Regions from separate parts of the Homo sapiens genome. Here all the other regions are linked to region 1. The links come from fine-mapping of genetic effects on gene expression. A gene starts in region 1. Each other region holds a variant in brackets. All regions are shown on one strand. Distances are between the middles of the regions.

Evidence for each region. PIP is the estimated chance that this variant, and not a neighbour inherited with it, causes the effect. A credible set is the group of variants that fine-mapping cannot tell apart.
Region 2: its variant is the best candidate, but not a certain one, in a credible set for the expression of ZDHHC2 in blood mononuclear cells (TOPMed, PIP 0.61).
Region 3: its variant is the best candidate, but not a certain one, in a credible set for the expression of ZDHHC2 in tibial artery (GTEx, PIP 0.55).
Region 4: its variant is the best candidate, but not a certain one, in a credible set for the expression of ZDHHC2 in lung (TOPMed, PIP 0.77).

The regions. Positions count from the first base shown.
Region 1 is chr8:17,151,828-17,159,937 of GRCh38, forward strand. It overlaps ZDHHC2 (zDHHC palmitoyltransferase 2), which reads left to right and starts at 4,655. Exons shown (of 13, transcript NM_016353.5): 1 at 4,655-5,026. The coding sequence starts at 4,897. RefSeq lists a silencer at 4,114-5,473.
Region 2 is chr8:17,203,695-17,211,804 of GRCh38, forward strand. It overlaps ZDHHC2 (zDHHC palmitoyltransferase 2), which reads left to right. Exons shown (of 13, transcript NM_016353.5): 7 at 1,961-2,081; 8 at 4,266-4,398; 9 at 6,238-6,364; 10 at 6,694-6,786. Among named protein-coding and RNA genes, the nearest start is that of CNOT7, 39 kb to the right of the region's middle. The variant T/C (reference allele first, on the strand shown) is at 3,650.
Region 3 is chr8:17,220,088-17,228,197 of GRCh38, forward strand. ZDHHC2 (zDHHC palmitoyltransferase 2) reads left to right here. Exons shown (of 13, transcript NM_016353.5): 13 at 169-4,712. CNOT7 (CCR4-NOT transcription complex subunit 7) reads right to left here. Exons shown (of 7, transcript NM_013354.7): 7 at 4,879-8,110. Among named protein-coding and RNA genes, the nearest start is that of CNOT7, 23 kb to the right of the region's middle. The variant A/G (reference allele first, on the strand shown) is at 3,027.
Region 4 is chr8:17,188,414-17,196,523 of GRCh38, forward strand. It overlaps ZDHHC2 (zDHHC palmitoyltransferase 2), which reads left to right. Exons shown (of 13, transcript NM_016353.5): 4 at 7,091-7,211. Among named protein-coding and RNA genes, the nearest start is that of ZDHHC2, 36 kb to the left of the region's middle. The variant T/C (reference allele first, on the strand shown) is at 4,011.

The sequences.
Region 1 (8,110 bases):
CTGGAAGGACATGTCTGCTCACCTTTTGGGTTCATAGACAGTGCCCCTCCCCATTTAGGGGCAAAGAAGGGAAACAGTGTAAGCAAAAATATTATTTCAATGAAAATTTCCTATTTTATTTCCAAAGAGATTGACCTTAGTGCGAATTCTAAAGAAGTGCACGCAGAATCAGAACGATTTACTATATAGAAAAATGCTTTAAGTCTTTTAAATTTTTTGAATAGGGTTGTCGTTTTTATTAATCGTTAGCCATTAAATTATAATATAAAAACTGTATAATTATAACATAACTTTTTGTTTTGAGAAGGAGTTTTGCTCTTGTTGCCCAGGCTGGAGTGCATTGGCGTGATCTTGGCTCACTGCAGCCTCCACCTCCCAGGTTCAAGCAGTTCTCCTGCCTCAGCCTTCCAAGTAGCTGAGATTACAGGCACCCGCCACCACGCCCAGCTAATTTTTTGTATTTTTAGTAGAGATGGGGTTTCGCCATGTTGGCCAGGCAGCTCTCAAACTCCTGACCTCAGGTGATCTGCCCGCCTTGGCCTCCCAAAGTGCTGGGATTACAGGCGTAAGCCACCGCGCCTGGCCAATTATAACATAATTATAATTAGTTACAATGATATATAATTGTTCATGAAGTTATAATTCATATTTATAATTGCCTTGCTTAAGCTAACAGTTGATAACTATTGAAATCTATGGAGAAAAGGTGAAGACTGCTGCACTGCTTGGTGTGTGCCTGCCATCTAGTGGCAGGACACATTAATGCTACCGTGAAAGCCCTAGTGTGCCTGAAAGGCAGGTTTGCCAGGGACAGTTTGCTCCACTTTACATTGTCCCAGTGTTTCGACCCAATCAACTGTATACAGAGACATCCTTAGGCTTTTGAAATTATCTCCCATTTTATTCAATATAATTACAGCTGAATTGCAAACATAAATCTCTGACAGCCAAAACATATCTAAGCATTACTTCATTCCTACATTCCCTAAGCGCGATTCCTTTTCTTTTATTTTATGTATCTCCAGAAACAAAAAGTGGTTTAGGCATGCTATTCTTCTCCCACAGAGAATGTTTTGACCGCTATTATAAACATGCACATTGACACTGGAGTCACTGATGTCATGGACTGCTGCCTTCTAAAGAGCTCTTCTCCCCCAAAAGAGTGATAAGATTAAGTTTGAGAAAATAATGAAAGAGAATCTATCAGTATTCATGCAGACCACTCTAGTAAGGATGGGAGAGCCATTAGTAAATAAGATATAGATCCAGACCTCAGCTTCATTGCTTCCAATCCTTGTAAGATTTAGAACTCCTTGTATTTGTGAAGTATCATACCCTCTTAGCAAACTCAAGACAATCAACGTCTCATATACATGAGACTAATACGACTGACCTCATATCTTGTTGCAATGTTGCCCTCTAAGAACCCTTCCAAAAGGAAGGAGTAAATATCAAGCAAGTGTCCTAATAGTTTCTGGTAGGTGTTTTGGCTGAAAAGCTTGAGATGAGGTTGGCATAGGCAACATTAAGGGGGATCTGTGTTCTCTAGCAGCAGGTGCGTCCACGCCTTCCTGGGTTTGGCTAGCATGCTATGTTTGATTCATACTATGCAAGGGACTATGTTAAAATGGTAATCTGGATCTGCAGGCAGAAGGAAGATTAGCAGTATTAATCATGAAAGTACGGCAGACTTGAGGTTTGGGAACTCAAGAATTTGGGGGACTGGGCTGGAGGGAGAGGAGGAACGTTTAAGGTTCCTGGGCTGGGCACGGTGGCTCACACCTGTAATTCCAACACTTCCGGAGACCGAGGCGGGCGGATCACCAGGTCAGGAGTTTGAGACCAGTTCGGCCAACATACTGAAACCCTGTCTCTACTACAAATACAAAAAATTGGCCGGGCACGGTGGCGGGCACCTGTAATCCCAGCTACTCGGGAAGCTGAGGCAGGAGAATCGCTTGAACCCGGGAGGCGGAGGTTGCAGTGAGCCGAGATGGCGGCATTGCACTCCAGCCCAGGCAACAGTGCGAAATTCTGTCCGCCCCCCCCCCCCAAAAAAAGAGAGATTCCTTCATGGGGCAGGAACTGAAAATAAGAGTTGTGAAAATTTGAGAGGTGAATGATGTTGCTAGACCGCTGAGTGCAAGGAGCATACAGGCAGAGGCCTAGCGAGGATGGAGTCATGGTCATTAGGGACTGGATGAACCCAGCAAGGGGGCTTTTCTCCCGTTCTCAGTCACTCCCCTCACCCCCCTCCTTGCCTGGCTGTCCGCTCGTCTCTTCTCTTCCTTAGCGTCGCCTTCTTCCTCCTTTGCTGTGGCTGGCTTTCTTTTTCATAAGTGGTCATATCAGTTTAATCACAGTTATACATGAAACCTACAATTTCTTATGCTTATTGAACATTTAAATTAAAATTCGTGAGTTGAATCTTCTGTATTTCTAAACAGTAAGTCTCTAGTGAAGTTTCTTCTTGTCTATGACCTTCAAATTATTTTTTCTGTTTATGTAGTCCTAAAGAAAAAGAAAATAAATCAAAGGCTCTCTATACCTCAAAATAAAAGCTCTCCTTCCACTCTCATCAAAGACTAGTATCTAGAGATTGGCTACTCACCAAAGAGCTTACATTTGTGCGTGCTGCTTATGCCTAATTAGAGACTACGCAGAGATCAATCCTGTTATCTTGTGGCTGTGGAGATGCTTCTTCCTAATCCAGACTTTTTCTGTATTTAAGATAAGAGAACTTGAAAAACCCAGTAATAGTAGTATCCTTAAAATGGCAATAACAAAAAAAAGTTGAAAATATTTCACAAATATTTATTATAAATAGGAACAATTAAACAACATCTTAGATGAGTAATAAAAATGTAGCTCCTTCAAAGATATGACACCTGCATACTTTTCCAAAAGGGTAGATGATGTGAAAACTGGGCAGAATGCTATTCCATTTCCGATTTCAAGACCCTGTAGGACTGTGAGAGGAGGAAGAGCACAGGGCATCGTCGCATCCAGGATCTACAGAGGCACTATTTGCACTTTCTCCACCGTTTCCAGTATGGAAAATCCGATTCCTTCCTTTTCATACCTTGATGGTCTCTATTGACCTTCAGTCACTGATTTGCTTCTCTTTGTGAGGGTATTTCAGTCCCAGGAGGAAGTTTTAATTCCTGTTTTTTACTCTCTTCTGATTGGGGGGGAACACAGGATTAATATTCATGGAAAACATTAAGGAATCCAGAGAAGTTTTATTTTTACATTAATATACAGAATATCCACAGAGAATATAAAAGGCTACAGCAAAATCAAGTGATTCACTGGGACATAATATGTCTCTCTTTTCAATTATTTAAAGTCCCACAGAAACTTGACTGACATTTTCTATGCATTTTTGAAGAGAAATGGAAAGAGATGTGGGGTGGGGGGCTGTAACATAGTAGCTATTTCGGGAGAGATTAGCTTGTTGTGTAATCCAGTCACAGAAAGATAATCGCAGACACCAGAGCTAAATTTCTTTGACTGAATTCATGTAAATCAGTATTTTTTTTTTACTTCTACACATGAATAAGAAGTAATTTCATTCACTGTGGTTGCTGTGTGGTGTAAATACACATATTCACTAATGTTAAGAAAAATTGTGCCTATTATGTATAGTAGTGATGCACATAATTTACACACACTCATTGATTGAAATGTTTCCCTGTGGATCAGGTGCGTTCATAATCAGATGAAGGAAAAGCAAAGGAGGCATTTGTTTATTTTCCATTTCGTGAATCATAAAATCAGAGGTTTGGGCTGACTACCTTTAGGTTCCCTTACGGTGTTTTTTGGGAACCGCTTTGGAGTCAGCTATCTGCTAAGTTTGGAATTGCCACCACGAAAGTAAACACCGTAGTGAGGAGCGGGTTGAGGAAAAGAATAAATAGTTGGTGGAAGGAACCACCGTACTTGAGGGAGGGGACAGTGGGAACGGCCCCTGTCACAATCATTTATCCAAAGCATCAACATTCTCAGAGCAAAGAACTTGTGTTTCTAACTCCAGAGGTGCCTGGATTCACAGCCAAAAATGCTTCTTCCTCGCTCTCCACAGCCCCTCCCATGCCAGACGCCGGCTCGGCACCCCCTCTTCGCTGTGCATTTCTGCTTCCCCCGAAAGCCCGAGTAGTAAAGGGAGGCTCCTTGCGGCCCCCGCGGGCTCCCAGGGACCCGCAAGTTGAAGCGCGAGGGTTCCACGCGGGCTGCGGGGACGCGGGCCTCGGTGCTGCAGACTTTCTCAGGGCGCCTGGGTCGCGGCAGGCGCGGAGTCCCGAGCGCAGCAGCTGCTCCGCCGGCCTCGCCTCCGACCCCCGCCCTGCGCCAAGCGCGGAAGCGCTCGCGACCTAACTGCCCCGGGTGCCGGGCGCCTAGGGAGGGGCCGCCACCGCCCGCTCCGCCCCGGGGGCCTGCGCCCAGCAGCCCCCGCCTCCCCGGAATCCAGAGGCCGAGCCGGAGGCGGCGGGGCCACGGTGGGAGCCCGCGAGGTGGCCCGAGCGAGGGCCCCGCATCCCCGCAGAGCCCGCCCGAGGGCGCAGCCTGCCACGCCAGGGGAGGCGGCCGGGCGGCGGGGAACGGCGGGGGCGGAGCGCAGCCTCCCGACGCCGCCGCCTCACCGCCCCCCTCCGCCTCCTCGGCCTCCGCTCGCAGCCGCCGCCTCCGCCTCCGCCGGGCTGAGGAGCCGGGAGTCCGCCGCGCCGGCTCGGGGCTGCGGGATGGGGAGTTAGCGCCACGGCGGCGGCAGTGGCCGCAGCGCACCCCGCCGCCGCCCAGGAGCCCGTCCAGCCAGGGGTGCCGGGCCCGCCCAGCCCGCCCCGGAGCCAGGCCCGCGGGCGGCGGCGGAGCTGGGCAGGTGGATGCGGCTGGAAGATGGCGCCCTCGGGCCCGGGCAGCAGCGCCAGGCGGCGGTGCCGGCGGGTGCTGTACTGGATCCCGGTGGTGTTCATCACCCTCCTGCTCGGCTGGTCCTACTACGCCTACGCCATCCAGCTGTGCATAGGTGAGTGCGCCCCCCGCCGCGGCGCCCCCAGCGCAGCGCAGCCCACCCCGACTGTCCCGGGACGCTCAGCCGCTCCTCCGCTCTCGCCCCCCGGATGCGCCCCGGGCGCTGCCAACCTGCCGCGTCCCGCCGGCTCCGCCGCTAAAAGCAGCCTCGGGGCAGCTTCTTCCACGCGCACGCCCCTCGCCCTCCCCTCCCAACTCTCGGGTTAAGGTGGCGCCTCCGCCCCGCACTCGCCGCCGAGCCTCCCGCCGCCTTCCGCTCACCGCCGCCGCCTCGGCCACACCCCCTAGAGGGGCGGAAGGTCCCCGGGACCGCTGTGGAGAGGGGAGGCCGAGGCCGGCGAGGCGCGCCGGGGGCTGAAGGGCTGAGCTGGGCCCGGCCCCGAGCTGCGCCAGACCCGCGCGGGGGTGCTGGCCTTGGCGGCGGAGCTGGATCCCTTGCTGGTTGGCGTCAATGCACTTGTTAAAAATTTGTGACAGCGCTCAGGGGCGTTTTTGCTGCCTTTATGATTTGAGGATTGCCAGTTGGACACTTTTCTAGTTTAAAAGGATGTGGAGGAGGTGAGCTACTAGAAAGTATTTTTGAGGACATGTGCAACACACTAAACCATAATTTAGGTGTTTGAACAGTAGGGAGAGAAAAAAAGAGGTGATCGTCTGAGGTTTTTACATCCAGAGAGCGAAGTGGCTCCAGTCCGAGTTCGAGGTTCCTGAATTGGTGGGTAGGATACTTTTAATGCTGAAGATTAAAATTTTTTAAAAAGTTGATTATTATGCACAAGTAGGGAGTACAATGATGTCGCTTAATGTAAGCTGGTTTCTACCTTCAGGGGTTTTATGAAAACTGATCTGGGTTATCAGAAAAAGATGTTAAAACAGAAAATGACCTTTCTGCCAGTGACTTGTGAATGCTTTCTGTGTTTGGTGCTCCACCTAACAAAGTGTCTGTTTTTGCCCTACCAAGTGCTAGCTTTGGGTGGGACGAGGGAAAAGATGAAATAGTGGCCTATTATATTGAGCCTTCACAAGCTCAGCATTTTCAAAGCCTCAAGATTCAGACATAAAATCTTGTCTGAAGCCATCTTACCTCAAAATGTTGCGCCTTGTGAGAAAGTGTCATAATAATACATCAAAATAATCACTGATGTAAGTTGTAAGAGAACCGAGACTTTTATTTCATATAGTTTTAAAATTTGCTGTTATTACTTGAAGGGATTTAGAAACAAGCTTAATAGTCCAAAAAAAAAACCTTGAGTCTGTTGTTGGGAAAAGATGAGGCTGTACAGGCATTATCATGAGGATGCATTTAGGTATGCAGTCGTCAAGTCATCTAAAATATATAGGAAAGGACGTGTAGTAAATTTTGTATTAACTGTTAATCTTAAAATAGCTTGCCTTATTGAGATAGACTGTATATGTTACGTAACTGTTGGGAACCTTTGTTGTGTTTCATTCCTTCGTCCTCTTAAAAACAGTGACCAGTATCGATTAATATAACCTGCAAAGAAGGGACATCCTAGAAGGCCTTCATTATCAAAATAGCCTATTCTCCTGTATTATCACATTAAGCTAAGACGCTTATCTTGGTACAGTGTCTCCTGTCCATTAAGAGGAAGCATTTGAAGGCAGAGAGAGCTCTTCTGCCCGTTAGAAGGATGTCTGCTCCTAGCTGAGGTGCTATATGGCAGATCTTATTATTGTATTGGGTAGACAGGTGATGGGGAAGGAACTAAATGGAAAATTGGTATTATATCTGAATCGTATGTTTATATGTACTTTCTGTAAGTTTAAGACAAATCTAGAGTATCCATAAAATCCGCATCAGTATTTTAGTAAGTGACGATTTGACTAAGAGGAAGAATGCCTCTTTTTAAACTGCCTAAGTGGCGTGGCCTGTTATTGATACCTTATCTATCACTTCTTGTCCCTGCCTGCCTGGCGCAATGCCTGTCTGCCTGGCGTAATGCCTGTCTGCCTGGCCTGGCGCAATGCCTGCCACATTGAAAACAACAGTAAGTGGTCTTGAATAAACAAATAAATGATTCAGAGGCACTATCTCCTAGGTTTTCAGAAAGTAGCTTTTATATTTTTATTGCTGTAGAAACAAAAAGTAATTGTTATGAAAGATCTAGATTCTAGAGTCTAAGAAGGAAGAACAAGTTGAAGCTGAATTTGATTCTAGAGACCATGGCAGTTTATGAGTGGCAAGCTTTGCATAGCCTTGGTCGAGTGGGAAGTTGAAATTTCCTTATAGGCACTGGGAAAGATGGCGACTAGTGTGACTGACACACAAAACCAGACTCCCAGACTCCTTTCCTTTTCACAGACAAAGCAAATGGAAATACCAGCCCCCACCCTACCCCCAGTATTAATCACATCTCAGACTGCCCTGCCCTTTGAAGATTCTTTTTCTCTTGGAAGTTGCCATTTACAAGCAGATTTTCCAAATTTCTTCCATAAAACATTGGCCAAGGTTGGGACCAGAGTGTGGGGGTCGAGGGCTGGGAACTGGATCAGGTAGCAAATGGAATAGAAGAAACAAGGTGATTTACCCTGGTCCTCCTTCCACATCTGCTCTCAGCTAGGGATGACCCTGAATATAAATTATTCTGTGCCCTTTGCTGAATGAACTGCAATTTAGGAGTAGTGCTTATCCTGGTATCCTTGGAAACTGGAGATAATGATTCTCATTACAGTTAGTTTCTATATTTAACAACGTGGATGTATGTGGCTCTCTAGGCACTTTTTCAGTTAGCATAATTTTTGCTTAGTGTTTGTATTTTATAAAAATAACCTCTCTTTTTGGAATATGTGTATATGTAAAATATATGGGATGTACATATATTGTGTGAGAGTCAAGTATTTTTGGTTAAGTCAGCTTCCTATTCTGCCAAAGAAAAGATCACAAAAGACAGTTATACTTCTAATCATTTGGACCACGTTTATCTCGTTTGTTGATTAACGAGGCTCTTCTATTTGTATTCCTCCCCCTCCATCCTTTCCTTCTCTTACCACTCCTTTTCCCTCTCCCCTGTCCCTCCTGTCCCTCTCTCCACTCCTGGCTTCTTTTGTGTTTTAACTC
Region 2 (8,110 bases), 52 kb after region 1:
ACCATAAAAGGCAACCTCAGCAACAGGCTTGCATCCCCCCACTGGAACCTCTAGAGATGCAGATGTAACTGTTTCCATACAATGTGCACGCACAATTTGTGGCTTCTTTTTTTTCTTTTTTTTTTTTTTTTTGAGAGGAAGTCTCCCTTTGTTGCCAGGCTGGAGTGCAGTGGCGCAATCTCAGCTCACTGCACCCTCCACCTCCCGGATTCAAGCGATTGTCCTGCCTCGGCCTCCCGAGTATCTGGGACTACAGGCGTGTACTACCACGCCCAGCTAATTTTTGTATTTTTAGTAGAGACAGGGTTTCACCATGTTGGCCAGGATGGCCTTGATCTCTTGACCTTGTGGTCTGCCTGCCTCGGCCACCCAAAGTGCTGGGATTACAGGTGTGAGCCACCACGCCCAGCCAACTTGTGGCTTCTTTATAAATTATTTGCCCATATGTAAGACCTTTAAGTTTACAAATTACTAAATCTAATGCTATTCCCTTTACCTTATATTTTTTGAGGGAGATGATGTAAACATTTTTTTCACATGAACATGGTTTCATTTTTACAAATCTAGAAAGAAAAGTGTTTCATCTTAGTAGCTAAGTCAATGGAGAGTGAGATGATTTTTACCTACGTTAGAAGGGGAACAAGAACGTTTGAGAAAAGGAAACAATATGTGTATGTTCTGTGCAATAGGCTGAATACTAGAAAAGGAAACCTGTATGTTCTATTTAATAGGTTCGTTATACCGGTTAACCAAGAAGTTACTCAACCCATGAAGGTATTAGCCAATTCCACATGGGTGATGTATCACATTGACACAAGGTCATCCAGTAGTGCCCTTGTCTTTATGAAAAGGAAATCAAAAACTTTGATAGAAAGAGAGTGAGCCTATAAGCCTATGAGTGGGAGCTAAATGATGAGAACACATGGACACAGAGGAGGGAACAACACACACTGGGGCCTTTTGGAGGGAGGAGGGTGGGAGGAGGAAGAAGGCTAAGCAAAACAACTAATGGATACTAGGCTTAATACCTGGGTGATGAAATAATCTATACAACAGACCCCCACAACTCACGTTTACCTGTCTAACAAACCTGCACTTGTATCCCAAAAATTAAAGTAAAATAAAATATAAATAAATAATTTTTTAAAAAAGAAAAATCTTAACAAAAAGAAAGTGAGCCTATAAAAATGAATTGTATTTGTACTTAGGTTTATTGATACAATAGTTTGATTTGTCCCCCCTCAGATAACGACTTTGGAGTGAGAACTGAGATTTATAAATTTCCATATTTGGAATTATAGCATATTTAGAGCCGACTTTTGGAAATGACCTCAGAGTGTTTTACTTACAGATAAAGAAAATGAAATTCTAATCGATGATTTCACTTCCTCAGGGCCACATCATTACTTAGTGTCAAATGGGCCTTCTGACCCAGCTGTCTAACTGCCAGGCCTACTTCTTTTCTTAAAGCTCCCATTTAATATGCTTTGACAGTCCGCTTGCTTCAATGAAGGCATGCAAAGAGTAATTTGTGAAGATATTCCATCTAATTTGGGAATACTTGAAAAATTGTAACTTAATTAATCATAGTTGGATATCAAACCCAAAGATGGCGTAGAGGAAGGGTTTAGTAAATTCACCTAAGCTGCCTGGCCTGATACGGTTTCTCGCAGGCTCTGTGCTTTGAGGGATGTGCATACTTGCGTAATTTGAGATGACATGCAGTTACATTGTTTGTGATTGACTAAAGCAATATTAAATATCATGTTTTAAAAATAGAAGCAGATTTTTTAGTGAAATGGATTTTTACATGATTGTATGCATAAAGAAATCTTATGAGTTATATTTAAAGAAATGCCAATAAATTAGAAGTGAGAGGAAGCTAAACACTTGCTTGAGCATATGCACATGTAGGTTGAAGATGTAAAACTCACTGGAAATGTTTTTGTTTTGTTAACAGGGTGAACAATTGTGTTGGATTTTCAAATTATAAGTTCTTTCTCCTTTTCTTGGCTTATTCTCTGCTCTACTGCCTTTTTATTGCGGCAACAGATTTACAGTATTTTATCAAATTTTGGACAGTAAGTCATTAACTTGGTAACTCTTTTTTTGGTATACAATAATAGATAATATAGGCTTTTCAGAACAGAATTATTTCCGACACTGACTTTATAGACCAGAGCTCATTGACATGCAGTCAGTCCTCATTATTCGCAGATTCTTTATTTGTTAATTCAGTAAGATGTAATTGTAACCCCCACATCGATACTGACAGCTTTCGTCATCTGCAGACATGTGCAGAGTGGCAAAAACATTGAGTTGCCCCCATGCCCATTCCCAGTTGAGGTTGAACAAGACGATGCTTTTGCCTTCTTGCTTCAGCTCTCATACTATAAACAAGTGTGCTTTCCACAGTCTATTTAGTGCCATGCTTTTTTCCATTTTTGTGCTTTTTGTTGGTGATTTTGCTGTCAAAAAATCTTAAAGTGTAGTGCTGAAGTGTGGTCTAATGTTTCTAAACAAAAGAGAACCGATGTGTGTTATGGAGAAAATAGGTGTATTAGATAAGCTTGATTCAGGCATGAGTTATAGTACTGTTAGCTATGAGTTCTATATTAATAAATCAATAATGTATATTAAATAAGGTGCGTTTAAGTAGAAACACACATAAAACAAGGTTACACACTGATCAGTTGTCAAAGATGTTGTGACCAGAGGTTCATAGAAACCTAACCCTGTATCTTCCCTAGGAGCAGTTTTTCAGTGTTCACAAGTTCAGTGTTTGTGGAAAGTTTATAAAAAATAAGTACTGCAAATAACGAGAATTGATGACTATATAAGATTTTTTTCAGGATTTAAAAATAGAAGTATTTTCTTTATGTGTAAGAAGATTATTTTTTAAACTATCATGCCTATAATGTCCTTATGCCTATAATATCCTGAATTTTTATTCGGTATTTCTTGATTATGCTTTATACACTATATATTTTAAATGTAGGCAAAAAGAAATTAAAATTGAGGATTTAAGATATCCACAGGTCCTCCTTGTGAACACCAAATGACAGTAAAAAAGCAATTTATCTGCTGCCAGGATTGATGTATTATTTTCATTAAATTATCTTTATTATGGTAAGAATTTCTAAATTGCTAGATCACTTATGTGAGATTTGAACCAAATTTAATACCAAAGAGTTATTGAATGCCTACTGTGTGCCAATTCTATTGCTAAGCATAGAAAGACATGAGTGAAGAGACCTGCTGCTAACATTCAAGGATTCTTTCAGTGTCCAGCTTGAAAAATGAACCGTAATGAATGTCTGGGAGAGCATTACCTCACTGCTCCTCCTTCCTGTGGATGATTTTAGTTTCAAACCACAAACATATATGAAAAGGAATGACCAGAATTTTCGCTGTCAAAAAAACCTGCTGCTGTTGAAAACTGTCAGTGAGGTCTTGTGACCGGTGTCATTTGGTCAGGGACGACAGGGTATTGGAATCTCAGGACCATTTATCAGAAGAGACACCTCGTGGCAGCCATGGTGCTTCGATAGGTGTCCATAGCCCCAAGCCCTCCATTCTAGAGCCATTCCAGGTCTCTTTGGATTTATAAACAATGAGAGAATGAGAGTCTAACTGGTTTTCTTTGAGA[T/C]GGACTGTTTCAGCCCATGGATATTAACATTTATTTTAGACAGGTGTTATGCACTGGTGTTGATCTTTTCTGTGGTGCTATTATTTAAGATAGCTTGAAGCATTATTGTGAATGTGTTGTTATATGTATTCATTTAGTTGATGCTGTTGTTTGTAGTAACATAAAACATCAATAAGGATAGTAGCCAAATTGTGCCAGTTAGCCTTCATTTTCTGGCATTATAATGAAACTATTTAAACGTTTGTGATTCTGTAGTATGTTAACAAAACATACTCCGTTAATAAATTTAAAACTACATTTTATAGTTCCATTTATCTTGCTTCGTATTACAGTTTATACATATACTACCATAAATTTTCTATGATTTGGTTATGAAAAACACAGTTTATATTCCAAATTTTAATATCATTTTCATATATATTCATATTCTCGTAAACTTTTAACCTGATGAAATATATGCATATTTTTCCTAAAGTTTTAACATAAAGCCACATTTTTTTATATTAAATTTAAGAAAAATTTTAAGCAAAAAAAAAAATCTTACTAATTTACTTATAAAAGTAGGGGAATACATATCCCTTTGACAAAACATGTTATTTTCTTCCTTTCTTTATAGAATGGCCTACCTGATACTCAAGCCAAGTTCCATATTATGTTTTTATTCTTTGCTGCAGCTATGTTTTCTGTCAGCTTGTCTTCTCTGTTTGGCTATCATTGTTGGCTAGTCAGCAAAAATAAATCTACATTAGGTGAGTATCCAATTATTGTAGTTGACAGAACTTTAAATACGTATACCAACATTCATTGACAGTTGCTATGTGATTAAATGCCAACTTGCCCTGAAGTGGTGGGAAAAGTCATTCTTATTTTCCTCATTGTTTTTTTGATATGTCGCTTAGACACATACAGGTTTGCTCATTCCATATATTTATTGATTGTCTCATATATATGTATATATATATGAGACTATATATATATCTATATATAGATATATAGATATAGTGGCATATAGATATATAGATATAGTGGTGAGCAGGGGCAAAACAGTCTAATGAGGGGCACTAGGAATATTTTAGAAACACTCCATGTGGCTGAAGCATAGAAAGCTAAAGATTGAGAAATACATTAATGAGGTTGGAGAGGTAAGCAAGGACTAAGCTATGTAGAGTTTCTAGCTCAAGGATAGGAGTTTGGGAATGCAACCAGGACCACACATGCTGATGATCATAAAGGACACTCCAAGCTGTGAGCTTCAGTTATTATAATATGCAATGAGGATTAATTACAGTGGGTAGTCAATTAGTGTTCATTTTCAGTATTTTGAAATGAAACATTATGGAATTCTCAAATGAAATCATTACACCAAATACTATTAGGGTGAAAATACTGATAAAGTAATTTCTAAGCCCAGGAATTTTATTTCAAATTATGTGTTAGGCAGTTAAATTGTAATTCATCAAAAGCAAATTTATTGTTTCTAGAGGTTTTTAACTTCTGGAAACCTCTAGATTTAACTTGTAGCACTGAAAGGACTTCCCCTGGATAATATGATCCTTTGAAATGTTTTAGAAAAAGCTATGTATCCTAGGATGAAGAATGCTAAGGATCTTGCAAATGACCACATTTTTTCATAGTGCCTAACTCTGCTGGTTAGATTTTTCTTTTTAATGGAGAAAAATCATTATACCTCCATGTTCATATTCCAAAAACAACATTTTACATTTTGTATTTCAGCATGATTCAAGAAGAAAATGTAGTATTTTTGAAGGAATGTTGATGACCTTATTCAAGTCTCAGTCTGTCGTGTGTTTGTTGTGTGACCTTAGGCAAGTCCCAGAGCCTCTCTGAACCAGCTTCGATAGGCAGAATGAGCATCACCAGATGCAATACATGGTTCTGGACTGGATCCCGGTTTGGACAAACTAGTTTAAAAGTAGATTTTATAGTCAGCTGGAAAAATTTTATTAGATGAGAACCAATTTCAACGAAATTGGAAAATACTTAGCCAGGCATGGTGGCATGACACCTGTTGCTCCAGGAGGGTGAGGCAGAAGAATTGCTTGAGCCTGGGAATTCGAGGCTACAGTGAGCTATGATCATACCACTGTACTCCACTCTGGGCAACAGAGTGAAACCCTGACTCAAAAATAAACAAATGGATTTACTTAAAAACAAAGGTTGTAGAATGTATGTAAAAGATAGTCTGATTGTGGTTTTCTTAAAAAATACACGTGTAGATTTGTAGATCTATGTTTATGGATCCATCCATTTATCTATCTATTGATCAAAAGATCCAGAAGATGCAGTTTTAGTTTATTTGCTAGTTTGTATTTTCTGATTTTCTACAATGCACATGTACTATTATAATAAAAAGGCATATTTTAAAATTAAAATAGGTATATCTTATGATATTTTAAAACAGAATGGACACCCTATATTTCAGGGCTGTTGACAGGCACATAAGCCCTCACAGTCAGCTAGCCATTGATTTTCAGAGTTTCTTCATTTACTTCAATTATTGATAAATATTCAGGATTGCTAGTAAATATGTTCTTTACTCATGTGATTCCTTTACCATCTTTTTTTAGAGGCATTCAGAAGTCCAGTATTTCGACATGGAACAGATAAGAATGGATTCAGCTTGGGTTTCAGTAAAAACATGCGACAAGTTTTTGGTGATGAGAAGAAGTACTGGTTGCTACCCATTTTTTCAAGGTACTTCTTTGTTAAAATTTTCAGGCTTTAAACTAATGAAAATAATACAGCAAAAGATAGTTTCAGGAAAAGCCTCTAGTTCCATAGGCTTGTAATTCTGTGTAGGAACTCTTATTTTTAAAAAATATTATTCTATGATTCACCATAATATCAGTGTGGAAGTCAGTTAATTCATCATCTTCCTGAACACTATGTTGAGCTCAATGTCTAATACACATTTTTTTTGCCTAGAGTATAGCATGTTCTGCTCTCGGACATCAGCATTTTGGCAGGGTTTCACTCCGTTGTCTTTTGTATGGTTCAGTTCTAAATTTTTATTTTAATTCTAGTCTAGGTGATGGCTGCTCCTTTCCAACTTGCCTTGTTAACCAGGATCCTGAACAAGCATCTACTCCTGCAGGGCTGAATTCCACAGCTAAAAAGTAATCTCATATTTTTTTTCATTTTACTTTCAAATAAGATATTTTACCATATTGTGTCTTTTGGTTATATGTTCCTTTGAAAAAAAATGAAGACCATAAGAAAATTTACTGCAATGGTTTCCACTTGAAATGAGGGAAAAAAGAAAGTATGATTGAGGATACATTGGAAGCTTCAATTATACTTGTAAAATGGTGTTATTAATCTAAGTGTGAGTAAAAAGGTGTTAATTGTCTATACATTTTGGTTGACTGAAATATTTTTTAAATGTAGTGCTTAAAAGAAAAAAAAATGTAAGTCAAAATTAGCTACCCACTGCTCAGGTAGGCAGACAGGGTAAAATCGCCCCTGACCCACCATATCTTTCCTTTCTGTGATAACTGTTAGAGTAAAGAAACTTGAGGCTTTTGGAGATCAAATGGACCCCCAGACACCTTCTTGACAACTCCATTTTAATGTATATTATGGACTTAGTGCCCTTGGAAGACCTCTAAGGATTATCTGAGCCATTTCTGTGGAGAGAGAAGCCAGAGTCTTAGAAATTCATTGTCTGGAGACTTTTGCTCCAGCTTTAAGTTTGTTTTGATTCCAGACTATCAAGAATTTGAGGCTGGCCAGAGAAAGACCTGACATTTCATTCTGAACGTGCTACCAACTGGCAAAAGGAAAAGTTACTTAAACTTTTAAAATGCTATGTATGAATTTTCAGTGGTTTGAAACACCAGTTTTTATACCTTTGTGACAGATTTGAGTATAACCATTCCTCTGATTTTTCAATGAAAGCCAGTAGCAAAAGCATAACCATAATATCATTCTTCATTAAACGTTAGAGCTTTTCTTAGTTGCTGCAGTGCCACATACACAGTATCCACACCAACACTCCATATTGAACATTTCTTACTGATCACAGGACTTTTTCCTAGGGAGCCTGGAGTGACCCCATAAACCTCAAGGCAGTGTTCCTGGTAGCCATTCTAAAGTTCTTTTTGTTGTTGTTGTTTGTTTGTTTGTTTGTTTCCATTTTAGTTTTGAGACAGGGTCTCTCTTGTCACCCAGGCTGGAGTGCAGTGGAGTGATCATGGCTCACTGCAGCCATGACCGCCCAGGATCAAGCGATCCTCCTGCCTCTGCCCTTTTAAATTGGGAATTAAATGTAAAAGGAATTTATATTTAAAATCCTTTTAAATTGTCAAAAGAGATGAAAGGTATTTGTCACCCCATCCCTAGAGTGAGCTATGTACAGGCCAGACCCTACCAGTTAGTGAATGGGCCCAGTGTATATATTTCACAGGGACATTCATGGGCATCAGAGTTTTTTACTAGATC
Region 3 (8,110 bases), 68 kb after region 1:
GCAGTATTGATGTAGAGTTCCATATTCAAGAGCACGTCTACTGAGCCTGCTAGCATAGTAAACAGTTTTGAATGAGGGATATTATTGAAACAGATTATGAAATGAGTTGGTTTGTTTTGCGTGTTTATGGTTAACATAGTAGTTTCATGTTTTCTGTTTCATTTCAAGGTATCAATGCTGTAGATGGATGGAAGAGGCTTCCCACAGGAAGGTGCCACCAGTCAGTTGTGCCTATGTCCCTTTGGCTGGAAATGCAGAATATGAATTGATTAGTTCTCTCCAAGCCATTGCTTAAAATATAACATGTTTTGGATCCAATACACACATTGTTACAACTAACACAAATTCCTATTAAATATTAAAAGTAGTTCTGGTTTATTAATCAACGGGGAAAACATCTTCTCCAAAAAACTTGGAATAAATCCAAGGACCAGTTTTTACCCAAATATATGGGTAGCACAGTTTATCACATAGAAACTCCATTAATCATCTGATTTTCCGAATCTGAAAATTGAGACTATTAAGATATTAGGATTTCAGAGATTTCAAGTCACATTATAATGATAAGCATTATTCATAAAACTTGTTACCTTTAAGAAGGTGGAAGTGGCAAACCATACTTCTTTTTTTTCCTCTGATGTGAATCCAGCCTCAGACTGAGTGAACTGTAATAATTATGAATTCATTACAGAGTCCAGGTGGCCTGCAGTTGAAGATCATCAACCATTTTTGCCTCACTTAATTCCAGCCTTTTGTTTTCTGCTGGAAAATAAGTGTGGACATTGAAGCTTGAGCTCTCAAAGCAGTTGGCTGGAATACTTTTGTCAGAATACGGTACATTTCTATTACATCAGAAATATATTTTCATCTCTTCTTGTTAAATTGGGAGGAAATTTATGATAGCAATTATGAAGATTGTTTTATGACATTCTTTTGTCAGTTTGGCTTTCTAAAAATCTCTTTTTAGATTATTTCTCCTGTTGAACATAGTAAAACTATTGAATTTCTCTTAAGAATTCCTAATAGGTCAATAGATTTACCCTCCAGTGATATCTATATTATTTCTTTCTCGTCTCATCAAAATGATGACAGGTAAACTATATTTTTCCTTAAACACCTATTACAGTTAAATTATGCAAATCATTAAATAAAAATCATACAACTTTTGGAAAGTTAGTTCAACATGAACTAAAATGGCATGCTATTTGGAAATTTAGTTTGAGATAAACTAAAGTGTGTTGATGCCAGAATGTTCAGCTTCAGTAAATATAATAAGCTCTTGTGCCTTGTATGCACTATTTAAAAAAAGTTTTTTTTATTTGAGTCCAGTATAATTCATGTAAATGTTAACAATTAGAATAATACTCTGTATGCTTTTTTGATACTGATTTTGAGAATTTAAAGCAGATTACCTTTTAAAACTGGACCAACTAAGTAATTGGTATTTAATCAAAGAGAAAATGGTAATAAACTTTTCAAAATCTTTGTTAAACCAAACATTCAACACAAAATAAACTAGAAGGCCAGAGGATAATGGAATAAAAGATCATTGCAATTACTTATCCTTCCTAAAAATATAGTTTTATATTAATTGTGCTTATGGAAGAAACAATGTCAGCCAAGTCCATTTTATAGTTTGAGTGCAATTCTTTGAACAATAGAAATATCTGCAGTCTTTCACAGATTTGTATTATGCTGAAGAGTTTCATCTGACAATCTGCTTCAAGAAATCTCAGAAAATATGATAACATTTTAACTTTCATTTTAGAGCACGTTTTGGTCATTTTTAAAAATACCTAAAGTGCCAGACCGGAACCTATAGCTACTGCTAGAAGTCTTAAAAAAACCAACAGCAGCACAGGATGTATTAAGAATTATATGAAGTCAGGTTTGTTTTTTTTTTTTTTTTTTTTTCAAAGCACAGTACTGTTAGCTGTTTTTGTGGACAGGATTCGATTAAGTATTCCCTCTTGTCAAACTGGAAGCTAGGGGAAAAAGAGGGATTTTTATCCTTTACTCTTCTAGAGTACTGTTAATGCCCCTTTCCCACAGTCTTTTATATAATTAAATATATGTCAATACACATTAGAATCAGATTTGAAAAAGTTAAAACAATTTCATTGTTGTAATTGTTCCCTTTCTGTTTTCATATAGTGAATAACCTTTAAAGGGTTGTTTTGTTTTGTTTTGAATTATAGGAGTTATAATCTTTGGAGATGATTGCATATCTCATTAGATATGCAATATAAATTTATCTGAGTGAACAAAGTGCTAAATAAATAGATCTACATTTTGTACATATTTATATAAAATTTACCTTTAAGTATTTACTTTAAAAAATTTAATGGCTTAACTCGAACTTGAAGACACATACTTCAACTGTCCTTATTGTCCATTAAACTGATAATTTTGATTTTTCTTGCTTTTATAGATTTTACTATATAGGAATCAAGATTTAAGAAATTTTGCATTAAAAATAGTGTACCAATGCTTCATATACGTTAGTTATTTGCTATTATGTAGGGAAGAGGATTGTTATTTCAAAGATATATTAAAGAACAGTTGCATCTGAATATAATCATGATGCATTCAATGAAGTTCATATCCATGAATTCACTCCTAATATACCCTAATAAAGTGGTTGATCACCTACATTATCTGTCTATAAGAAACTGCCTTTGCACTGACAATGTAAATTATTTTAAGCATAAATTTTCCTAATAGTTTATTAGAGCTACTAATGGCAAAATTCATGTCTTCAATGTGGCCATAACATAGGTCTTGGGAGGGGTGGTGAGAAAATAAGGTATTTACTTTGTAGTAGTTAAGTGATTCTGAGGACAATTAGAAACAGACTATAAAACTCAACTACACTGTAATCAATAGACAACTATTGGAAATATGGCATATGTTGACAAACACTTAACTAGGGAAATCAAAGATATAAATCATGTTTATAAAAAATTAGGCACGCAATCATGTGATTCATGCTTCAAGAAAATATATGAAAAAAGTGTTACTCCATT[A/G]TGTTATAAACTAGCAGATTTTCCCTATTTTGAAATGCATGTAAACGGGCTCGGCTGATTCTGAAATTGTACTGTATCATTTGGTATTTACTTATATGGTCAAATACTTGTTTGTAAAAGTGATGGTTCTGATACCTTTGATCAAACATAGATACAAACCTCAGAAAATGGTAAATGCAAAGCAGTTTACGTTGTAAATCATGATGGTGTCCTCCAGCACAACCATCCCACCCACACACCTAGACTACAGATTCTGATCTGTGAATATTTTCACCAAAGTGACATTTAAACAAGTGGATTTTTCACAAATAACACGTGTTTAATATCTTTCTGCAGAAACGTGTTCTTCTAAAGCAGAAAACCACGTGGCTTAATCCCAAATGTTTTACACTTCTTTTCCACATACTTAGCCAGTTCAGCACCGATTTCCTCTTATATGTGGAAGGAGACTATGTTACATACCTGAAGTATTACTCTTTTACAAAGATACCATTAGAATTTTCTCACTGTCTTGGTAAAAATTCCTAGATTCTACTTTTTATTGCAAGTGTTAGCAATATGATCTTGTAACGCCATGAAAAGCATTAAGTAGAAGCCAACATTAACCTAGATTTTACAACTGAGCAATCTGTTCCCCACCAGATTTCCTTTAGAATTTATTACCAAAGGATCTTATTTTGTTACAGAACACAGGAAATTGTTAAACCTTATAATGTTGCAAACCATGCATTTTCCTTTTCTCTTTTCCATAAGATTTTTTTATTGTAGTAGTGCCCTGGCTTGTAAACAGTGGACATCACTGAAAGGATGAAATCAAGTAGGCTTGTTTCAAAGAGACTCCTGTGAATCAACTATGAATATGAAGTATCTCCCAGAACAATGTTGAGTGTTTCAGGAGACTCTGAAACAGGGCACCCATTTTTTTTTTCCTTCCTCAAAATAGTCTCCTTGAAATGTGAGCAAAGAACTATGATGATGCAGTCCAGGTATCTAATAGCTCAATCACCAACACCGCTGAGAATTGTTCTTATACCAGCAAAAAGTTCAAATACAATAACCTGGGCAATGCCAACAGAAGACACTTTTAATCATTTGCAGACCTTTCTTGTTGCAGGAAAGTGAGGGCAAAAACAAACTGGTGAAAAATGTTCAAAAATAGATCTTTTTGATGTTCATAGCCAGTATTCAGTATTTCTGTATTGTTTACAATTGGGGGAAAATGTCTGTTAAGGCTAATCATCTGAGTGATTTGAGTAGCAATTAAACCAAAGGGAAACTTTTAATAAGTTATTTTAAGCCCTGGTTTATGGCTAGTTCCCTTTTGCTCAGGAAAAATAGTACTACTTTATGGTTTATGAAAACCTATGATTTATGTTGCATCTTCCGGGGAAGGTTTAACAGTACAAGGAGCTGAATCCTACCTGAAATTATTAATGCTTAATATATTGCTTCTGTTTGATTGATAAAGGTGCTTAATCAATTGAAAAAAAAACGCATAATGCTTCAAGGTAAAATTCCGTTGATTCTGAATTTAAAAAGATACTACAGAATGCGTCAGTTCTCCTGTTGTATTTTTCTCAGTTATGAGAGCAAGGCTATTTTGTCAGTTTAGATTTTGTGTCTTTTTCTGTCAGTATGTATGGCTCCCTAATTGAAAACATCTTAAATGAACTAATCAAACACTTATTGTGTGAAAGCTGAATACTTTAAAAAGCAACCTTAATTATAAACTCATCTTGGAGTAGCATGCAAATGTGCTAAAGTTATTTAAAAAACATATACTTAGGCAAGAAGTAGAGGACAGCCCCAGAATGGCTACAATGAATGGAAGGAAAGTCTGTATACACACATATAGCTCAAGAACAAGTTTTTATTATGCATGGGTTTCGCAGTGATACAAGACACCTGCTCACAACTTACAGTATTAATTTTTTAGAAAAACAAAACAGGTATATGGCATGAGTGAAACAGTTCCCCATTAAAAGCACTTAAAACCTATGACATGGCTAGTAAGATGTAAAATATTAAGTCCCCTTGGGGTCTTGCAAACTTGTATTTCCTAACAATTTGGAAGCCATGATGATAGTCTGAAGCTAAAGGAACTCCAATTTCTTGGTATGATACTAAATAAAGATTCTTATCTTTTGGGAGAAAGAGCCAAAACAGAAGGGTGTGAAAGCAGTGAATTTCCCCTCCTATGACAATAAAGCAAGAGGGCAGATTATATTCATGAATGCTTCTCATATACAAAAAATTCCTCCATACCAGGAAGGAGAGTATTGACCAGTTTATCTTTAAAAAGAAAATGAGTAATTCTGGAGAAATGTAGCTTGTTCATTCACCTACAGACTATGGCTACAAAGCAATGAAATGGACTTCTAAAGAGAAATTGCTCAATTGCTTTTATACTAAACGTTAAATGTAACTAATGCTGTAGAAAACTGTTTAAAACAAATGGAAATTGTCTAGTGATAATGTACATGAATCTTGTTTTCTTGGAATTTTCATTCTATGGTGACATTTTTTTAACTTTCAAAACCTGAAATGAAAATTCTGCAGGATTTGGATGTGTACAGTCCTACGTTTCTATAATGTCTTAATAGAAAAATAAATGACAGGTAACGTTGTTATAAAAGAAACTCTCATATAAATTACACCAACATAGCAAATGGCATGTGTGAACTGGCCTTCACTACAAAGCACCGACACACAGAATAATCAGCATTTTTCCTATCCCTTTATTTATAAATTCTAACACATTTATTTTATAGACATGAGATAACATATGCATTCATAATTTGATTCCACCTCAGGTTGCCTACCCAGAGGAGCCACTGCATTTGGCAATGCAGATGAAATAGCAAACAGGACAGACATAGACCCTTGAGTTTCTTCTAGTAGAGAGGTGGACAAGCCTTTTTTTTTTTTTTTTTTTTTTTTTTGAAAAGGGCAGGTAGCAAATATTAGAGGCTTTGCAAGCTAAGACAAAATGAAGGACATTATTTAGGTACTCAAGGAAACTTTTCACCAAATTTTTATTCTAAAAATTGAAAACTCAAAATATTGAGTACAATTTTTTTTTCTTTTTTTAGTAATAGAGTTCTACTAATGGGAATAATGGGATTTTTTGGCAGGGGACGGGAGGTAACATTTTGCTCAATTTGGGCTGAAAGTTGGTATCCCCTCATTGGAATAAATAGAAAATGTTAATCTGTTAATGCTGATGTGTAATGGGATTTCACGTATTTCATCTTTGAAAATGTCTTTTCACACAAACAGGTCAAGGTACTGCTAAATACTGACACATCCACCCATGAGCATGTGATTTTAGTTAAGCATATTCATCACTTGTAAGGCATTTGTAGGATTCATCTTTTTGGTATTTGCCCTTTAGCATGTCATTCATTCAAGATGATTCATTTCCAACAGAAGATTAAGAGGAAACTTTAAAAGCATTTAATTGCAGTTAAATGCTTTTAAAATTTAAAAATTTTCTTTGCACTGCATCAAGGTCCAAAAAACTGCTACAGGAAAATATATCCACTAAAAATGGATTTGGCAATACAGCGCTGTTTTGACTTCTCATAGCACAGAAAGTATATAAAGCAGCTTGACAATCTTAAGTTTTAGTTTTTATTGAAATGAATTTACCATATTATGTTGTTGTACCTTGTAATTTCAGGTCAAATTCATTAAGAAACATTTTCAAGTCTGTGGCAAAAGTTAATTTCCAAAGTTACTCAGTGTTAAAAAACAGTGGTTGAGGATGGTTTTTCTCATTCAGAAAAATTTCAATGTCAGCCCAGAGCCCAAAAAAATAAAAATAAATCTTTAGCACTGCTAAGCCATTGAACGCCTGTGTGGCAAATCAAATCAGGATATTCAGCTTCTGTTTCTCACAAAAAAAAAAAAATCATGGAACTGAAGATGGTTAAGTCCACAAGAGCAAATGAAGTTAACTGTTGACCAGTTCAGTAACACCAATATTTCCTGTGAAGTACCTGCTGATGAATAATCAAGTGAGTAACTACAGGCTTTAAACAACTTACGTTTTCACAAGCCTTAAAATTTGACCAAATAAACTTTTTTTCTGCTTCATGCATTTTTCCCAGCATCGGTTGCATCACATCTTAGTAGATTCCACTTCAGGTTGTACTGTTTATCAACTTTTTTGAAAATATTCCCACTTGTAGTTCCATACAAATTCTTCGATCACTTCAAATCCAGCAATGGTTTCTCAAAAAATAAAGCTAGGCAGTACTGACTAGTAAGAGGCAAAGAATTAACAGTGTCATTTGATGTTGTGTCCAAAATCCTCATTCTTCAAACTACTGTTCTCATCAAAGGGCTGATGTCTTAATTTTCTCTGGACACATGTCTTTGGGTTGGTTACTATCTTCAAGCACGATGTAATTCAGCATTAGTAAATGGTTTTCTTTGCTTGGCTAACAAATAGGCTACTTGTAAACATTTTGGTTGCAGCCTCATTTTTATTACTTTTGTGAAATTTTGCTGTGATGTTTCATTTAAATTTTCTAATTCTTCTGACTGTTGCTTTCCCACCAGTTGGGAATATTGTGATGTTAGTCTGATACTGTCAGTCTATTCTTTTACCAGTTATGGTGACACTGCATTATAAACACAATGTACCAGCATATAATAAAATAGTCCATATTCCAATGTGCCTTGAAAGTGTAACATTCAAAGGTACTTTTCTTGTTCTGAGATACAGGGCATGAACTGGTAGCAGAAAAAGTAATAAATCTAGCAATACACAGGGCATTCCAAATGCTTTCAGGTAATATCTGCATCACCATGATTCTGTAGCTTGCCAAGCGGCAATGTGAAACAAGACACACATACACAGGTTCTGTAGCAGCTACTCAACTTTCCCATTATAGCAAAAAAGTATCCATAGATAATATGTAAATTAGTGTGGCTGCATTCCAATAAAAACTTATAGACACTAAAATTTGAATTTCATGTAATTTTCAGATGTCAGGAAATAATCTTTTGATTATTTTTCCCAACCATTTAAAAGCCATTTTCAGTTCATGGGCCACACAAAAACAGGCAGCAAGCTG
Region 4 (8,110 bases), 37 kb after region 1:
TCTAGTAGTTCTTAACTACACATAGTTTCCTGTATACAACATGGCATTATTTCCTTTCCAAAATATTCTTACCCCTTTCTCATGGAAATAATATATTTATTTTCCATTCATACTGGCAGCTCCTTCTTGGCCTCCTTTGCTGGTTCCTCTTCAGCTCCTAGACTGCCAAAGCATTGGAATGTTCCAGAGCTTAATCCCTGGACTTCTCTTCTTATATACCTGCATTTATTCCCTCGTGGATTTCATTGAGTTCTGTGACTTTATGTGTCACCCCAGTGCCGCAGCTCTCAGATTAATATATTAGCCTGGTGCTTGCTAATAAACGCCTGACACATTTCCAGCTCCCTATTTGACATCTAATAGAAATTTCAGGTTCAACACAACTGAAAACAAACTTCTGATTTCTCATTTAATTCCCCAGTTCTTCTAGTCCTAAAGTTTTCTTATGTCAGTAATGACAGTTTCACTCTTCTGTTCAGGCCAGAAACATTGGTGTCATCCTTGGCTACTCTTTTTCTCTCGGACGCCACATCTAGTCAATCAGAAAATTCTATACCCTCACCCTCAGAGTATGGCCACAATGTGAACTCATGTGCCGCACTGCTCCCTGCTCCCACCCCGGTCCAAGCCACCATCCTCTCTCATTTATAGATTTGCAGTAGCCTCTTAACAGGTTTCTTTTTGTTGGGTTTTTTTTTTTGGTGTTTTGTTATGTTTTTTTTTTTTTTTTTTTGGCCTCCTCTTGTGTATTTTCAACACAGTAGCCAAAGTGATCCTTTCAAAAGACAAGGCAAATCTCTCACCTTTTTGATGTCTTTATACAAATGGTACCTTATCATTGAGGCTGTCTGTGATGACTCAACATAGAATAGCAACCCCACTACCCTCGGCTTTCCCTGCACCTTACCTTCCTGGATTTTTCTCCATAACATTTACCATCATGGCAACACACTGCATATTTATTTGTTGAATACTTTTGAAAATACACCATCGTTAGAATGTAGGTTCCATAAGGGCGTGAAATGTATCTTTGTTCACTGCTTCATCACCAGTGCCTAAAGCAGTGTCTGACCTATAGAAGGTACTCAAGAGATACTTTTTAAGTGACTAAAAGTAGGGAAGAAGTTATTCATACACATGCAGGTTTATTTTTATGGCCTTGGCAGGAAGTTGAAGTGACTTCTAACTTCTCTCTAAAATTATATATGACATCATTGGCTAACAGTGAAGACCTAAGTGGGTTAATTAAGGGTTGGGAGAGTAGAGAAGGTTTGAAATAGTGGATTGGACAGAGTGGCAAAAGGATATGAAACACACGGAAGAAAGAACACAGCATTGAAGGAGCAGTCAAATCGATGACAGTGACATTATAACGGTATCAGGCTTCATTGTGTGATTTTTCTACAAAAGACGTACCTTAGTCATACAACTGTTTGAGATAGATACTATTTTTTACTATTTTACAGATGGAGCCACTGGCTTTGAACATGAAACAATTAAGGTATCTAGTGCTACTGTGTGGGAGAGCTAAGGTTCAACCAAAAGTCCTTTCAACCCTTAAGGACACTTTCTTTTCACTACACCATGCTCTAGTATGGAGAGCAAGCACAATGGGTGGGAGTGCCCAGGACTTCAATTGAAGCATGGGGGAAAAATAGCAAAAATTTTTTTACGTATTATTCATTTAATATTTTTATTTTTTAAAGTTTTGTATATGAGGTACATAAGCTATTAGCTGATAAAATATATACCAATACACTTGAACCTGGGAGGCGGAGGTTGCAGTGAGCCGAGATCGCACCACTGCACTCCAGCCTGGGCGACAGATCGACACTCCGTCTCAAAAAAAAAAAAGAAAAGAAAAGAATATATACCAATAAATACTCATCTGTTAGCAGTGTGATCTCACGTAATTTTTTACGGTTAGGGGAACATGATCAAAAGAGTTTGGAGACCACTGTTAGGAAGAAAGAGCCCTTGTCTGGTGGTTAAGAACCTTAGAATATTCCCTTTATAAAACGCAAGGTCTTGGGCTATTCTTTTAATTGATCAGCTGTTAGAGACCTCTCGCTTGTAAAATGAGGATCCTGAACTGAAAACATGTGAATTAAAATTTGCCCTTTTCATAGCAAGATTGTTAAAGTGATAATAGTTTTTCATTGGTAAGATTTTCTCAATATAAAAGTAATACAACCGCACTAAATTATATTTTGAAAATGAAGACTAGGCAAAAAGAAAAAAGAGAAAAATCCGTTACACCAATTCAAGCACTTTACATTCTGAATTTCTTTGTAGTTAAAAAAAACTTGTGAGTACCTAATAGATATATATATTTATGGGGTACCTGAGGTATTTTGATACAGGCATGCAATGTGTAATAATCACATCAGCGTAAATTGGGTATCAGTTACCACAAGCATTTGTATTTTGTGTTACAAAAAATCCTATTATACTCTTAGTTATTTTAAAATGTACAATTAAATTATTATTGATTGTAGCCGCCCTATTGTGCTGTCAAATACTAGGTCTTATTCATTCTTTTTTTTTTTTTTTTTTTTTTTTTTTTGAGATGGAGTTTCGCTCTGTCACCCAGGCTGGAGTGCAATGGCATAATCTTGGCTCACTGCAACCTCTGCCTTCTGGTTTCAAGGGATTCTCCTGCCTCAGCCTCCCAAGTAGCTGGGATTACAAGTGCCTGCCACCACGCCCGGCTATTTTTTGTGGTTTTAGTAGAGATGAAGTTTCACCATGTTGGCCAGGCTGGTCTCAAACTCCTGACCTCGTGATCCGCCCACCTCAGCCTCCCAAACTGCTGGGATTACAGGCATGAGCCATGGCACCTGGCCCAAATTTTTGTATTTTTAATAGAGATGGGGTTTCGCCATGTTGGCCAGGCTGGTATCAAACTCCTGACCTCAAGTGATCCACTCGCCTTGGCCTCCCAAAGTGCTGGGATTACAGGCATAAGCCACTGCGCCCAGCCTTATTCATTCTTTCTAACTTTTTTGGTTTTGTTACCGTTAACTTTCCCCACTTATGTCCAAGTTTCCTACTACCCTTCCCAGCCTCTGGTTGCCATCCTTTTATTCTCTATCTCTATGAGTTTAGTTGTTTTAATTTTTAGCTCCCACAAGTAAGTGAGAGCATGCAAAGTTTGTCTTTCTCTGCCTTGCTTATTTTACTTAACATAATGACCTCGAGTTCCATTCATGTTGTTGCAAATGATGGGATCTCATTCTTTGTTTTGTGGCTGAATATATTCCATTGTGTAAGTAAACACCACATTTTCATTATCCATTCATCCATTGATGGACACTGAGTTTCCTTTCAAATCTTGGCTATTGTGAGTAGTGCTGCAATAAACATGGGAGTGCAGATTATCTCTTTAACATACTTGTTTCCTTTCTTTTGGGTATATACTCACAGTAGAATTGCTGGGTCATATGGTAGCTCTATTTTTAGTTTTTTGAGAAACCCATCGTAGTAGTACTAATTTACATTCTCACCAACAGTATACAAGGGTTCCCTTTTCTCCACCATCTCACCAGCATTTGTTATTGCCTTTATTTTACTTTATTGGTATTTTTTGAGGTAAGGTCTTGCTCTGTTGGCCAGGCTGGTGTGCAGTGCTGCAATCACAGCTCACTGCAGCTTTGACTTCCTGGGTTCGAGCAATAGTCCCACCTCAGCCCCCTAAGTAGCTGTGACTACAGGCATGCATCACCACGCCTATCTAATTTTTTTTAATTTTTTGTAGAGATGAGATTTCACTATGTTGCCTAGGCTGGCCTCAGACTCCTGGGCTCGAATGGTCCTCCCGCTTTGGCCTCCCAAAGTGCTGGGATTATAAGCATGAGCCACTGCACCTGCCCTTTGCCTATCTTTAGGATAAAAGCTATTTGAACTGGGGTACGATGATAACTCATTGTAGTTTTGATTTGCATTTCTCTGATGACCATGGATGTTGAGCACATCTTCATATACCTGTTTGCCCTTTGTGTGTCGTCTTT[T/C]GAGAAATGTCTATTCAGATCTTTTGCTCATTTTTAAATTGGATTATTAGATTTTTTTCCTATAGAGTTGTTCGAGCTCCTTATACATTCTGGATATTAATCCTTTATCAAATGGGGAGTTGCCAAATACTTTCTCCCATTCTGTGGGTTGTGTCTTCTCTTGGTTGATTGTTTCCTTTGCTGTGCAAAAGCCTTTTAACTTGATGTGATCCCATTTGTCCACTTTTGCTTTGGTTGCCTGTGCTTGTGAGGTATGATTCAAGAAATCCTTGCCTACACCAATGCTTTGGAGAGTTTCCCCAACGTTTTCTTTTACTGGTTTCATAATTTGAGGTCTTAGATTTAAGTCTTTAATCCATTTTGATTTTTGCGTATGGCAAGAGATATGTGTCTCATTTCATTCTTCTGCATATGGATATCTAGTTTCCCCAGCAGCACTTACTGAAGAGACTGCCCTTTCCCCAGTGTATGTTCTTGGCATCTGTGTTGAAAATGAGTTTACTGTAGATGTAAGGATTTGTTTCTGGGCTCTCTGTTCTTTTCCATTGGTCTATGTATGCCAGTACCATGCTATTTTGGTTACTGTGTACGAATGCTAGTCTTACGCCAGTACCGTGCTATTTAGGTTACTCCCCTACACTAAACTCTGTAGTATAATTTGAAGTCAGGTAATGTGAGTCTTCCAGTTTTGTTCTTTTTACTCAGGATAGTTTTGGCTATTCTGGGTCTTTTGTGATTCCATATACATTTTAGTATTTGTCCTCCTTGGGAAGGCTTTCCAGGTTAGGTGTTGTGATCTAAGCTGCATCTGCATTAGGAGATACCCCAATCCCAGTAATACTGTGGTTCTTACAGACTGGTAGATGTGTACTGCCTTGGTGGTCTTGGATAAGATTTGGAAGAATTCTCTGGATTACCAGGCAGCGACTCTTGTTCTTCTGCCTTATATTCTTCTAAACAAACAGAGCCTCTCTCTCTCTCTGCTGAGCTGCCGGGAGCTGGTGGAGGGGTGACATGGCACCTCTGTGGCCAACACCACTGGGACTGTGCTCAGTCAGACCCGAAGTCAGGATAGCATTGGGTCTCGCCCAAGGCCCATTATGTCCACTGCCTGCCTCCCCCATCTGCGTTTGCTCAAGGCTGAAGGGCTCTGCAGTCAGTAGGTAGCAAAGTCAGCCAGGCTTGGGTCCTTCCCTTCAGGGTAGAGAGTTTGCTCCGGCCCTGGCCGGGTTCAGAGATGCCATCACAGATCCAAAGACTGCAGTCAAAAACCTTTTAGTGTTTTTTGGTATTCAGAGTGTACCTGTTCCCATTTTTTAAATGTAATAGTCCATCAGTGGCTTATTAGCATTTTTTTTATTATACTTTAAGTTCTGGGGTACATGTCCAGAACGTGGAGGTTTGTTACATAGGTATACACGTGCCATGGTGATTTGCTGCACCCATCAACCCCATCATCTACATTAGGTATTTATCCTAGTGCTGTCCCTCCCCTAGATCCCCACCCCACGACAGGCCCTGGTGTGTGATGTTCCTTCCTGTGTCCATGTGTTCTCACTGTTCCACTCCCACTTATGAGTGAGAACGTGCAGTGTTTGGTTTTCTGTTCTTGTATTAGTTTGCTGAGAATGATGGTTTCCAGCTTCATCCACGTCCCTGCAAAGGACATGAACTCATCCTTTTTTATGGCTTCATAGTATTCCGTGGTATGTATGTGCCACATGTTCTTTATCCAGTCTATCATTGATGGGCATTTGGGTTGGTTCCAAGCCTTCGCTATTGTGAACAGTGCCGCAATAAACATATGTGTGCCTCTGTCTTTATAGTAGATTCTTTCACTGACATATCACTTTTAAAGTTTTTTAAATTGTAAAATATTTTATACATATTTTTGTATATATACAAAATATATAAATATATAAATATATATATATACAAAATATATAAGAACGTATATATAATGCACTACTTAAAGAATAATTAAGTGAAAACACCTAAGCAGCCACCGAGCCAGTATGTCAAACATTGTTCATATTTTCCATCTCTGCTGTGCATCTCCCAGCTGTTTCCCTTTATTCCTCAAAACTTAACAACTATCCTGCGTTTCTGTTATTCTTTCTTCTTTATAATTTTATCACATGTGCATGTATCTCTCAACAACAGTGTATATGTTGTTTAGCTTGCTGGTTTTAAAATTATATGAATGAATCATTGTATATATGTTCTATAAGATTGTTTTATGTTGTTCAGTATACTGAGGTTCTTTCCTTTGCTATACACAGCTATAGTTTATTAATTGTTAAATGCCGGTACTATTCCATTATTTGGATATATCATACTCCAATTTATCCATCATCCTTTTGATGTACATTTGAGTTGTGTTCTTTTTTTTGTATTTCAAACAATGATACTGAGATTTTTCTTGTACATGTCTCCTGGCGCACATTTATAGAAATTTATACAGGTGTATGTGTGTCTGTGTGGAAGATATGTATTTATATACATATTATTAAACAGAAGCCCAAATTTTCTTTTTCTCAAATATTTTAAAATTAGCTGGGCAAAATTGTCAGTATAAGAAGTAAAATAAATAATTAGACCCTTTAGAAGTGCTGGGGGAGATTTTATGTAAGGATTATCCCTAAGTTAAAACTCACTTAGGTAAGAAGATATGCTTAATGGATTTTCTACATTTGTTCTTAATGATCTAAATGAAAAATTTATTCATTGAGTTATGTTTATTCATTGGGCCATCTTATCTATCAATGTAACTCATATTTTGTTGGAACTCTACGGTTTATAAGCATTTTTATGTACTCTGTTCCTTTTGAGTTACACAAAAACCAGAGGAAGTAGGTACAGTTGTATTATGATGATGATTATTATACCCTTTTTCTAGATGCATAAATGAATGACCTGTGAGGTGAACAGACTTGCCCACGTTTCAAACTCTATTGTCTCTTTGAATGTACAATATACCATTAATATTTTATAAATACCCTTTTCCGGGTATGGTAGAGAAGACCAATATGTTATAATTTCTTTGAAAATACTGATTAAGATTTAAATGTATTCCACAGTTCCATCTCTCTTATGCAGAGAAAGATTTGTTGGAGAGAGAGCCAAGAGGAGAAGCCCATCAGGAAGTTCTTAGGCGAGCAGCCAAGGATCTTCCCATCTATACCAGGACCATGTCTGGAGGTAAATGTTGATAATGAGTGCTTTGCAATGGTATGCAAATAACATCATTAAGGTGACTGTAAGAAAGTGTGTTTATGTACTTGAAATGGTAAAACACTCATTTCAGAATGCTGTGTTATTTCTTGGATTGCTGTTAAATCTTTCCTGTGTGATTCCATAAAACAGAATGGAAACACGAATAGCACTGTGGCACAGAGATCGCAAGGAAATCAGAACTGACTTTAATCCTGTTCTGCCTACTTAGTTATGACTCAGTGAAGATGTGGGAACTGCTGAAATCTTGATTTATGGTAGTACTCATGTTTAAGGTTTTAATTGTAGACTTTCCTATTTATATTTAATTTAAGGCAGCAGTATCTGTAATGAATATAAAATGAATACTTTTACATGTATTTTTTCGTAAACTTAGAACAGTCATATAGGTGATGTAAAATTTCATTTAGGTATTGGTATAATTTTTTATCTATCTTTAAAATTTTCTTACAAATGCAATAAATTAACAAATCTCTTACTTGGGACATATTTTAAGGTAATTTGACAACTATCCACTTAAACAGTTGTCTTAAAACTGATGTATATGGACTAGTGATGCTTACCCACCAAGACTTGCCCAGAGCTTCTGTGACTTCAGACCTGTGCTGTCCATTATGGTAGCCGCTAGCCCCATGTGGCTGTTGAGCGCTTGAAGTATGGCCAGTTCAAACTGACATGTGCTCTAAGTATTAAATACACACTGGTTTCAAAGACTTAGTATGAAAAATATATATAAAATATCTCATTAATGAACAGACACAGTGGCTTGTGCCTATAATCCCAGCAACTCGGGAGCCTGAGGTGGAGGATTGCTTGAGCCCAGGAGTTAGAAGTTGCAGTGAGCTGTGGTTGCACCACTGCACTGC